Linked DNA regions of Homo sapiens. The protein of the gene in region 1 interacts with the protein of each later gene in a biochemical or structural test. Each region holds a gene or a part of one and is shown on either strand. Other genes may lie near its edges.

Region 1 (3,500 bases):
TCTTTACTGATTATGATTCTATTTCTTGAAAACCCTACAGACTTCACCAAAAGGCTCCTGGAACTGATCAACAACTTCAGTAAAGGTTCAGTATACAAAGTCAATATTCCAAGATTGAATTGGGAAGAAATTGAAACCCTGAACATACTAATTGAGTTATGAAATTGAATCAGTAATTTAAAAAAACCTACCAACCAGTAAAAGCCCCAGACTAGGTGGATTCACAGCTGAATTTTACCTGACATAAAAAGAAGAACCAGTACCAATCGTACTTAAACTATTCCAAAATATCAAGGAAGGACTCCTTCCTAACTCATTCTATGAAGCTAGCACCACCCTGATACCAAAACCTGACAAAGACACAATGAAAAAAGAAAACTTCAAGCCAATATCCCTGATGAACATAGACACAAAAAATTCACAACAAAATACTAGCAAACCAAATCCAGCAGCACATCAAATAGTTAATTCACATTGATCAAATAGGCTTCTTCTTAGGATGCATGGTTGGTTCAACATACACAAATCAATAAATGTTATTCGCCACATAAACAGAATTAAAAACAAAAATGAAATGATCATCTCAATAGACACAGAAAACCTTTGGATAAAATTCAACATCCCTTCATGACAAAAACCTTCAATAAATTAGGCATTAAAGGAACACCCCTCAAAATAATAAGAGCCATCTATCTATGACAAATCTGCAGCCAACATCTTACTGAATGGGCAAAAACTGGGATAATTCCCCTTGAAAACTGCAACAAGACAAGGATGCCCACTCTCACCACTCCTATTCAATGTAGTAGTGGAAGTCCTTGCCAGAGCAATCAGGCAAGATAAAGAAATAAAAGGCATACAAATAGGAAAAGAAGAAGTCACATTCTCTCTCTTTACTGGTGATGTGATTCTATTCCTCAAAAACCCTAAAGACTTCACCAGAAGGCTTCTGGAACTGATAAACAACTTCAGTAAAGTCTCAGTATAAAAAGTCAATGTGGCCGGGCACAGTGGCTCATGCCTGTAATCCCAGCACTTTGGGAGGCTGAGGCAGGCGGATCGACTGAGGTCGGGAGTTCGAGACCAGCCTGACCAACATGGAGAAACTCTGTCTCTACTAAAAACACAAAATTAGCTGGGCATGGTGGCGCATGCCTGTAATCCCAGCTACTCAGGAGGTTGAGGCAGGAGAATCGCTTGAATCCAGGAAGCAGAGGTTGCAGTGAGCAGAGATTGCACCATTGCACTCCAGCCTGGGCAACAAGAGCGAAACTCCATCTCAAAAAAAAAAAAAAAGTCAATGTACAAAAATCAGTAGCATTTCTGTATGCTAACAATATTAAAGTTGAGAGCCAAATCAAGAACATACTCCAATTTATAATAGCTGCAAAAATAAAATAAAATAAAATATCTAGGACTACATCTAACCAGGGAGTTAAAATCTCTACAAGGGGAGCTATAAAACACTACTTAAGGAAATTGCAGCTGACACAAACAAATGGAAAAACATTCCATGCTCATAAATTGGAAGAAATAATATTGATAAAATGGCCATACTGTCCAAAGCAATATGCAGATTCAATGCCATTCCTATCAATCTACCAATGTCATTTTTCACATAACTAGAAAAAACTATTCTAAAAATTCGTGTGGAACCAAAAATGAGCCGGAATAGCCAAAGCCACCCTACGCAAAAAGAACAAAGCTGGAGGTGTCACATTACCTGACTTCAAACTGCACTATAAGGCTACAGTAACCAAAACAACATGGTACTTGTACAAAAACAGACACATAGATGAATGGAACAGAAAAGAGAACCCAGAAATAAAGCCACACACCTACGGTCATCTGATCTTCCACAAAATTGACAAAAATAAGCAATGGGGAAATGACTTCCTATTCAATAAATGGTTTTGGAATAGCTGACTATCCCTATGCAGAAGAATGAAATTGGACCCCTACCTTTCATCATATACAAAAAGTAACTCAATATGGATTAAAGATTTACCTCAACTTGTAAGAATCTTAGAAGAAAACCAGGAAACATTCTGTACATCAGTTTTGGGAAGTAATTTATGATGAAGTTACAAAAGCAATTGCAACAAAAATAAAAATTGACAAGTGGGACTTAATTATACTAAAGAGCTTCTGCACATAGAAACTATCAACAGAGTGAACAGTTAGCCCACAGAATGGGAGGAAGTATTTGCAAACTATGCATCTGACAAAGGTCTAATATCCAGAATCTATAAGGAACTTAAACAATTGAATAAGAAAAAAACAAATAATACCATTAAAAAGTGGGCAAAAGACATGAACAGACACTTCTCAAAAAAAGACATAATAAGTGGCCAACAAACATTAAAAAAAAAAAAAAAAAGCTCAGTATCACCAGTCACCAGAGAAACGCAAATTAAAAGCACAAGGAGACACCTCCCTCACACCAGTCAGGATGGCTATTGTGAAAAAGTCAAAAAGCAACAGATGTTGGTTAGTCTGTGGAGAAAAGGGAACACTTATACAGTGTTAATGGGAATGTAAATTAGTTCAGTCACTCTGGAGATTTCTCAAAGAACTAAAAGCAGAACTATCATTTGACCAAGCAATCCCATTACTGGTTATATATCCAAAGGAAAATAAACTGTTTTACCAAAAAAATTTCATATGCATTCATATATTTATGACAGCTCTCTTCACAATAGCAAAGACATGAAATCAACCTGGGTGCCCATCAACAGTGTACTGAATAAACAAAACATGGTACATATACATCATGGAATACTACATAGCCATGTAAAGAAACAAAGTCATGTCCTTTTTAGCAACATGGATGCAGCTGGAGGCCATTATCCTAAGCAAACTAATGCAAGAACAGAAAACATGAAACTACATGTTCTCACTTATAAGTAGGAGCTAAGCAATAGGTACTCACGGACATAAAGATGGCAACAATAGACACTGGGGACTACTTGGCAGAGGGATGGAGGGGGCAAGTGTAGAAAAACTATGCTCATTATTTAGGTGACAGGACCAATCATACCCCAAACCTCAGCATCATGCGTTATACCCAGGTAACAAGCCTGCACATGTACCCCCTTGTATCCCCCCAAAAAAAAGAGGGAAGGAAGGAAGAGAAGGAGAGAGAGAGTGAGAGAAAGAGAGAGGAAGGATGGAAGGAAGGAAGGAAGGAAGGGAGTAGGGAGGGAAGGAAAGGGACAGAAAAGAGGGAGGGAGGGGAGTCAGAAGTGATACTACTCTCCTGTTACCCCTACCCTAGCCTAGCCTGGAAGGGCTAGAGGAGGACCAGCTAATGTGCAGGCCCTAGTGCACAGTGAAAACAGGGGGGCCCTGTTTAAAAATTATTAAGAATTTCCACACATTGACCCCAGAGCATTAAATCAACAGCAGGGCTCTTCTGAGTGCAAGGTGAGACTGCACAGGTCACAGGTCCATGAAGCTGCCGCAGCTAGAGAGACCTCATTAAAGAAACCATCCTGCTG
Region 2 (3,500 bases), about 110 Mb from region 1:
AGCTTGCAGCCTTCCCCCATCCCTTTTGGGTGAGTGGGAAGAGGGGGAAGAACAGGTCAGTCCTGGGCATTTAATAAACAGACTTCTAGAGCTTTAGGGAGCCTCTGGCCTCCCTGCACCCTTCAGATGAAGAAACAGGCCCAGATCAGGAGTTAATTTGGAATTTTAGGATTTACTTTAAGCAAATGCTCTGTATACCTGAGTTGTCATTTCTAATGTATTCAACCCTCTTTGGCATTAAATATGATAGAAGCCATGTATTTGAAGGATGGTAGCATTTTTTAAAGTTTAACATTATATATCATGGGATTTTAAATTAGACATCTATGTATATGTAAATAGTCGAACTTGTCTGGGACTCGGTTTAGATGATGTTCAACAAATGTCCACAGCAAGTTCGACTATCACTGCTTTTCTGTTTACAAGACAGTCGTGAGACTAAGCAGCTCAGGACTCCTGTAATGCACAACAGAGGCTTGAAAATGTGAAATCTTTGCTGTGACCTAGGGTCGGGATTCTACCTTTGCTGTATCAGAATGTCCCATTTCTGGAGGTCTATAAGATGCAGGTTCCTCTGGGCACCCCTGTGCATTGACACCCTTCCGTCCCAGAAGTCTGCCTTGCCTGTTTTCCTGCCTTTCCTAGGATTTCTTTGTCCCTGTTCCTAGTAAGTCAGACCCCTGGGCCAGCTGGCTGAGAGGCAGAGGCAGGCAGCCAGAGGAGGCTCAGGTGTGGCACTGGATGCTTTAGTCTTCTGCATGAGCACACCTGACCGGCAGCGATGCACCCACCGCACTGTTCCCTGGGGGGCTGTGGGCTCCCATGGTTCTGTGTGTGCTGGCCATAACCCGCCCTGCTGAGTTTCATGCAGGAGAGCATCCTGGAGTACAAAGGAGTAGGAGTGAGATTTTCTAAGATTTGAAGGTAGAACCCTGAATCTGCTCAAATTTATATTAAAAATAAGTCGTTCATGGCTTTGAGATAATAGCCTCAGTTAGTAACAAGTTATTTGAGTGCAAAAAAAGATGTTGCCCAGTGGTTGGACTGAGCAGATGTCCTGGTTTCCTGGGGACTCTGCTAGACCATGTGATGAACGACAGCCAAAAGCTGTTGCCCTTTTGAGTGAGTTTCTCATGAGTGTTGAGCCTCTCTCTCTCTCACGCAGGTGGTAAAGACTATCGGCCTCCGGGAAGTGTGGTACTTTGGCCTCCACTATGTGGATAATAAAGGATTTCCTACCTGGCTGAAGCTGGATAAGAAGGCAAGTCAGGATTAACTATTTACAGGCTGTGGATTGGGTGTTGGTCTGCTTCATCGATAAGGAAACTGGAGCAACTCACCCTGTCTTTTGTTTTCTGTTCCTTTTTGTTTGTGTAAAAGTTTTTACAGACAAAAAGGTTGCAGGTTTCCAGTAAATGGAGATATCGATTGGAAATCAGATCTGGCATTTCTCCATAGTGCTCACTCATTGGAGCATATGATGGTTAATTGCATAGCTTTTAGTTGACCTTAGTTTTTTCAATGAGATTGTTAATCTTATAAACTGTGAATCATCCACCATCTTGTAAGAACCTGTTATTGCTTTGTTTGAACCTGTGACAGATTATCTTCCAACTTTAAAGAGTGGATAATTCCATTAACCAACCAAAAAGAAAAGTAGTAAGATAAACATTTTCTTCAAACTCTGAAAATTATCCTTTTTTTTTTTTTTGAAACCCCCACTGTCCTCCCAAGTCACAGCAACAAGTTAAAAAGATGATGGGAGGTGGGGAAGAGTGGAGGAGCAGGAGGAATTCTTAACAGTAAGTTTCGGGGTCCAGGGCCCGATTGGCATGTGGCCCCATTCCAGGTCACTGGGGTCATTTCCAAATTTGAGTTCTCCAGGATTGATAGCATCATCCCATGAGGACTGGGGCTTAGTGAGGCAGTAGCTTTGATTTCCAGCTGAGCACAAGAGTGTGATAGTACTTGTTTGTTTTTTGTTGTTGTTGTTTTGAGATGGAGTCTTGCTCTGTCGCCCAGGCTGGGGTGCAGTGGCACGATCTTGGCTCACTGCAACCTCCACCTCCTGGGTTCAAGTGATTCTCCTGCCTCAGCCTCCCAAGTAGCTGGGACTACAGCTGCATGCCATCATGCCCGGCTAATTTTTTTGTATTTTTAGTAGAGATGGGGTTTCACCATGTTGGTCAGGCTAGTCTCGAACTCCTGACCTCGTGGTCCGCCCACCTCAGCCTCCCAAAGTGCTGGGATTACAGTCGTGAGCCACCATGCCTGGCCTGTTTTTTTGTTTTTGTTTGTTTGTTGTTGTTTTTTAAGAAGAGACAGGGTCTTGCTCTGTCACCCAGGCTGGAGTGCAGTGGCGCCATCATAGCTCACTGCAGTCTCGAACTCCTGAGCTCCAGGGTTCCTCCTGCTCAGCTTCTTGAGTAACTGGGACTATAAGCATGCATCACCATCCCCAGCTAACTTTTTTTTAAAAAATGTTGTAGAGATGGGATCTCTTCTACGTTGCCCAGGCTGGTCTTAAACTCCTGGGCTCAAGTGATCCTCCTGCCTTGGCCTCCCAAAGCACTGGGATTATAGGCATGAGCCACCATGTCTGGCCTGTGGTAGCACTTTTGACTAACCTTTTTTTGTCTGGAGTGCTAAAAAGATGACTTTAAGAATAAATATCTCCTGAAAACTGGCTTGAGGGCCCCATTGAGTCTTGGTTAGAAGCCTGTGTTGGGGACAGTGGGCCTTCGTCTTCCGGATTTGTGTGGAGAGTGTGGCTTGTTTCGTGCAGGTGTCTGCCCAGGAGGTCAGGAAGGAGAATCCCCTCCAGTTCAAGTTCCGGGCCAAGTTCTACCCTGAAGATGTGGCTGAGGAGCTCATCCAGGACATCACCCAGAAACTTTTCTTCCTCCAAGTGAAGGAAGGAATCCTTAGCGATGAGATCTACTGCCCCCCTGAGACTGCCGTGCTCTTGGGGTCCTACGCTGTGCAGGCCAAGTTTGGGGACTACAACAAAGAAGTGCACAAGTCTGGGTACCTCAGCTCTGAGCGGCTGATCCCTCAAAGGTGAGCACAGGATGACCCGGCCTGGGCAGGAGCAGTCATGCCGTCCTCGGCAGGGAGAAGTGATTGCCTTAGAAGCACAGTTTAAAAACACAAGGACTTCGCCAGTGTCAAGTGCTCCTTCATGCTAGTCATTAAGTCACTGACCAGCGACCTGAAACATAGCCAGGGAAGGCGAGCTGCCATTCCTCATGGAAACTAAAGCGTGGCCGTGTCCTGTGGGACATGGCATAGCAAACTTCTCGACCTGACTGCTCAGCTCCTCCTGGGGTATGATAGGTTGCCCCTGTGAAATCTGTTTTTATTTAGTAATGGTCACAAAAATTACCCCATTTGGAAGAAGAGGCCACTTAAAATACCTCTTAGTTTTTCCAGCAGAACTGAGTTCTTGTTCAAAATGCTAAGTCTTCCAGATTAACTGTCATAAATAGAAATGCTGCACA
Region 3 (3,500 bases), about 10 Mb from region 1:
GCAACAGAGCAAGATCCTGTCTCGGGGAAAAAAAAGAGCAGAGACTGGAGCCAGACTGTCAAATCCTGGCTACTCCACTAGCCATGTGACCTTTGACAGGATCTAACTGTGCCTCAGTTTGCTGATTTCTTAATGGAGATAATAATAAAGTATACTTCTTACTAACAGTTAATATGTATAGTGCCTGCATGCAGTTGGTTGATTACTTCTATAGCACTTCTGAAAAATGGGCAAATTTTTTGCTGGCGTTTGGTCTAAGAACTGCCTCTACCAAAGGGCAGGTAATTTAAGCTTCTTACATAAGGGCAGGGACTACATCTCACTCATCTTTGCATCCCAGTGACACCTAACACAGTCACTCGAAGTACATTAGTCATACAAACGAACTTCACACTTTTTAGTTTTATGTATTTGTTATTACAAAAAAAACCACAAAAACAAAACTTCCAATTTTTGACTTGATAATATATTTCTTAAGCATTGCAAAAAAAACCTGAAATGTGAAAACCTGACCTAGAAGCATCTAGGAAATGGTCTGGTTTTTCTACCCCCATTGTGCCATGGTTCCCTTTTTCCTCACAACTTCTACAGAAGTGCTGAGAAAAATGACTTTTCTCAATCCTTGGCAGGAGCCATCCTCAGAAACATTACCCTTTCTTAAACCTCTTTTTAGGTGGGAAAATTGTAAAATGTTTCATAAGAGTTCCTCCTCATGTGCAGTCAGATTAAGGCATGTGTGTTTACCAGGTAGGTAATCAAATAGGCACTCACTGCTCACAAAAGAGACTTAAAATTTTTATGTTTAAAAAAAATTATTATTATTATTATTATTATTATTATTATTGAGACAGGGTATCACTCTGTCACCCAGGCTGGAGTACAGTGGCACGATCTTGGCTCACTGCAACCTCCACCTCCCAGGTTCAAATGATCCTCCTGCCTCAACCTCCCAAGTAGCTAGGACCACAGGCATGTGCCACCATACACAGCTAATTTTTTTGTATTTTTGGTAGAGGCAGGGTTTCACTATGTTGCCCAGGCTGGTCTTGAACTCCTGAGCTCAAGTGATCCACCCGACTCAGCCTCCCAAAGTGCTGGAATTACAGGCATGAGCCACTGTGCCTGGCCAACTTAAAATTTTAAAGCAGCATTTGCCTTAGCTATTAATAATTGACTATCTTTTAAAAAGTTGTCACTTCAAAGAAGCAATTAGGTTGATACTCCAGTATAGTGTAGAGCAGCGGTCCCCAATCTTTTTGGCACCAGGGACTGGTTTTGTGGAAGACAGTTTTTCAATGGATGGGGGGGTTGGGGGGTGGTTTGGAGATAAAACTGTGTCACCTCAGATTGTCAGGCATTAGGTTCTTTTATGGAACATGCAACCTAGATCCCTACTGCAGTTCACAGTAGGATTCACGCTCCTGTGAGAATCTAATGCAGCCACTGAGCTGACAGGAGGTGGAGCTTAGGCAGTAATGCTTGCTGGCCCACCACTGACCTGCTGCTGTGCAGACCTGACAGACCGCAGACTGGTACCATAGGGGGTATTGGTATAGAGTTGGGGACCCCTGGTATAGAGTATATGAAGCTGTTGTATCTGAAAACTGTGTAGGATTTGGGGTTTTTTTTGTTGCTTTTATCCATGCTTGACATGATGTTTTAACTTTACTGCCTCACTGTAAAGCAACATTTACTAAACTATTGAGCACATACACAAAAAAAGAGTATAAGCAAATTATTCTCGGTATGTGGTACTAGAGTGTCTCTGCACACCATATAAGACCATGTTGAAGACATAGGCATTTCATGTTTATTTTAGTAGTAAATACCTACTTCTTGATTGTCACACCCAGTTTGACTGGGACCAAAAAAATCCTAGAATAGGGGAGAAAACAAATTACCTTAAATTTTTGGAGCCGTATGAAGAATAGAGGCACTTCTTTCTGAGGCATATGTCAGAAAAGAAATGCTTTGTGAATGAAGGATTAGATTCTGATTGCAAAATTTGATTCCTCATAGACTACATGGGTTAGTTTGTGGGTTTCCACAAGAGTACCTTGTCATTTGTCTGTGTTGATCAGTGGCTTTTTCTGTACTGTCTTCACTGCAGGTGACCTGAAACATATCACGAAGCTGAAACCTTGGGGCCTTTTTGAGGTTCTAGTGGAGAAGTATGAGTGGTCGCAGGAAGAGGCAGCTGGCTTCACAGATTTCTTACTGCCCATGTTGGAGCTGATCCCTGAGAAGAGAGCCACTGCCGCCGAGTGTCTCCGGCACCCTTGGCTTAACTCCTAAGCCCCTGCCCAGCACCACAGCAGAGATCACACACTGACCCTCCGCCCTTCCCCTTCAAGCATTTTCCTCTTCCCTTTTCAGGGTGAAGCTCTTCCTTCAAGAGTTTCTAGATCTTGTTTTTTTTTTAATCCAACATGTTCATTTGGGTTTGCTTACTTGACCCTGTGGAGATCCCCACAGCCATTGGGCATCCTAGGTGAATTTGGCCTTGGTTGGGCTCTGCCAAAGACTAATGGACTAAAATGTGAAACAGCCTCTTGCCCTGTACCTTTCCTTCCCATTAGGACATCCTTTAAATTATAAGCATCCTTTTTGAAAAGAGCTATGAAGGTGTATGAGCCCATCCTTTTATTCATTGACTCTAAGAGTCAAATTTTCTAGTGCATATCCTATTGCCAGCATAAGGATGAGGAGGGGGAAAGGGTCTTAATTCTATGTACAGCAGAGACATTAAACTTGCTGTGTCCGGGCTGCATCATCTTCCTGGACTGTTTCTGTTGTTCTCTGTGTTCACATTTTTTCCTGCAACTTTTAAGCTACTGTCTTTTTTAAATAGCTATATGAACACCAAATTTGGGTACCATTTTATCACTGTTCAAAGCACTGTCAAATTCCTTTCATCCTTTAATAGTTAAGATCTTTGAATCTTCAGTCTGATTTTTAATGTAAGCAAAAACAGAACCATTGAATAGTAATTTCTTGAGAACCTCAGGTGTTCTATAAACAGTCCTTTCCTGTATGTCTTCTATTACCCTAAGACCAGAGTTATTTTGGTTGGTTGTTTTGTTTTATTTTTTGTTTTTGTATCCATGGCTGGCACTTTACTCATTGCACTTGAGTTTATTGCCCCATAACTAAAGGATCAGGATGATGGTAGAACGGAGATCTGGGTTTCAGAGCTTTCCCATTTAAGAAAAATAGATCTTGAGATTCTGATTCTTTTCCAAACAGTCCCCTGCTTTCATGTACAGCTTTTTCTTTACCTTACCCAAAATTCTGGCCTTGAAGCAGTTTTCCTCTATGGCTTTGCCTTTCTGATTTTCTCAGAGGCTCGAGTCTTTAATATAACCCCAAATGAAAGAACCAAGGGGAGGGGTGGGATGGCACTTTTTTTTGTTGGTCTTGTTTTGTTTTGTTTTTTGGTTGGTTGGTTCGTTATTTTTTAAGATTAGCCATTCTCTGCTGCTATTTCCCTACATAATGTC

The links.
Region 2: the proteins of CLIC5 (region 1) and EZR form a complex in vitro, tested with the Homo sapiens proteins (one study listed by BioGRID).
Region 3: of the proteins of CLIC5 (region 1) and SRPK1, one has a biochemical effect on the other in vitro, tested with the Homo sapiens proteins (one large-scale study listed by BioGRID and IntAct).

Annotation. Positions count from the first base shown.
Region 1 is NC_000006.12:45,904,361-45,907,860, reverse strand, and holds part of CLIC5 (chloride intracellular channel protein 5), read left to right. Parts: intron 1-3,500. UniProt on the Homo sapiens protein: In the soluble state, catalyzes glutaredoxin-like thiol disulfide exchange reactions with reduced glutathione as electron donor. Can insert into membranes and form non-selective ion channels almost equally permeable to Na(+), K(+) and Cl(-).
Region 2 is NC_000006.12:158,784,869-158,788,368, reverse strand, and holds part of EZR (ezrin), read left to right. Parts: intron 1-1,165; coding exon 1,166-1,261; intron 1,262-2,785; coding exon 2,786-3,060; intron 3,061-3,500. UniProt on the Homo sapiens protein: Probably involved in connections of major cytoskeletal structures to the plasma membrane. In epithelial cells, required for the formation of microvilli and membrane ruffles on the apical pole. Along with PLEKHG6, required for normal macropinocytosis.
Region 3 is NC_000006.12:35,834,099-35,837,598, reverse strand, and holds part of SRPK1 (SRSF protein kinase 1), read left to right. Parts: intron 1-2,110; coding exon 2,111-2,295; 3' UTR 2,296-3,500. UniProt on the Homo sapiens protein: Serine/arginine-rich protein-specific kinase which specifically phosphorylates its substrates at serine residues located in regions rich in arginine/serine dipeptides, known as RS domains and is involved in the phosphorylation of SR splicing factors and the regulation of splicing.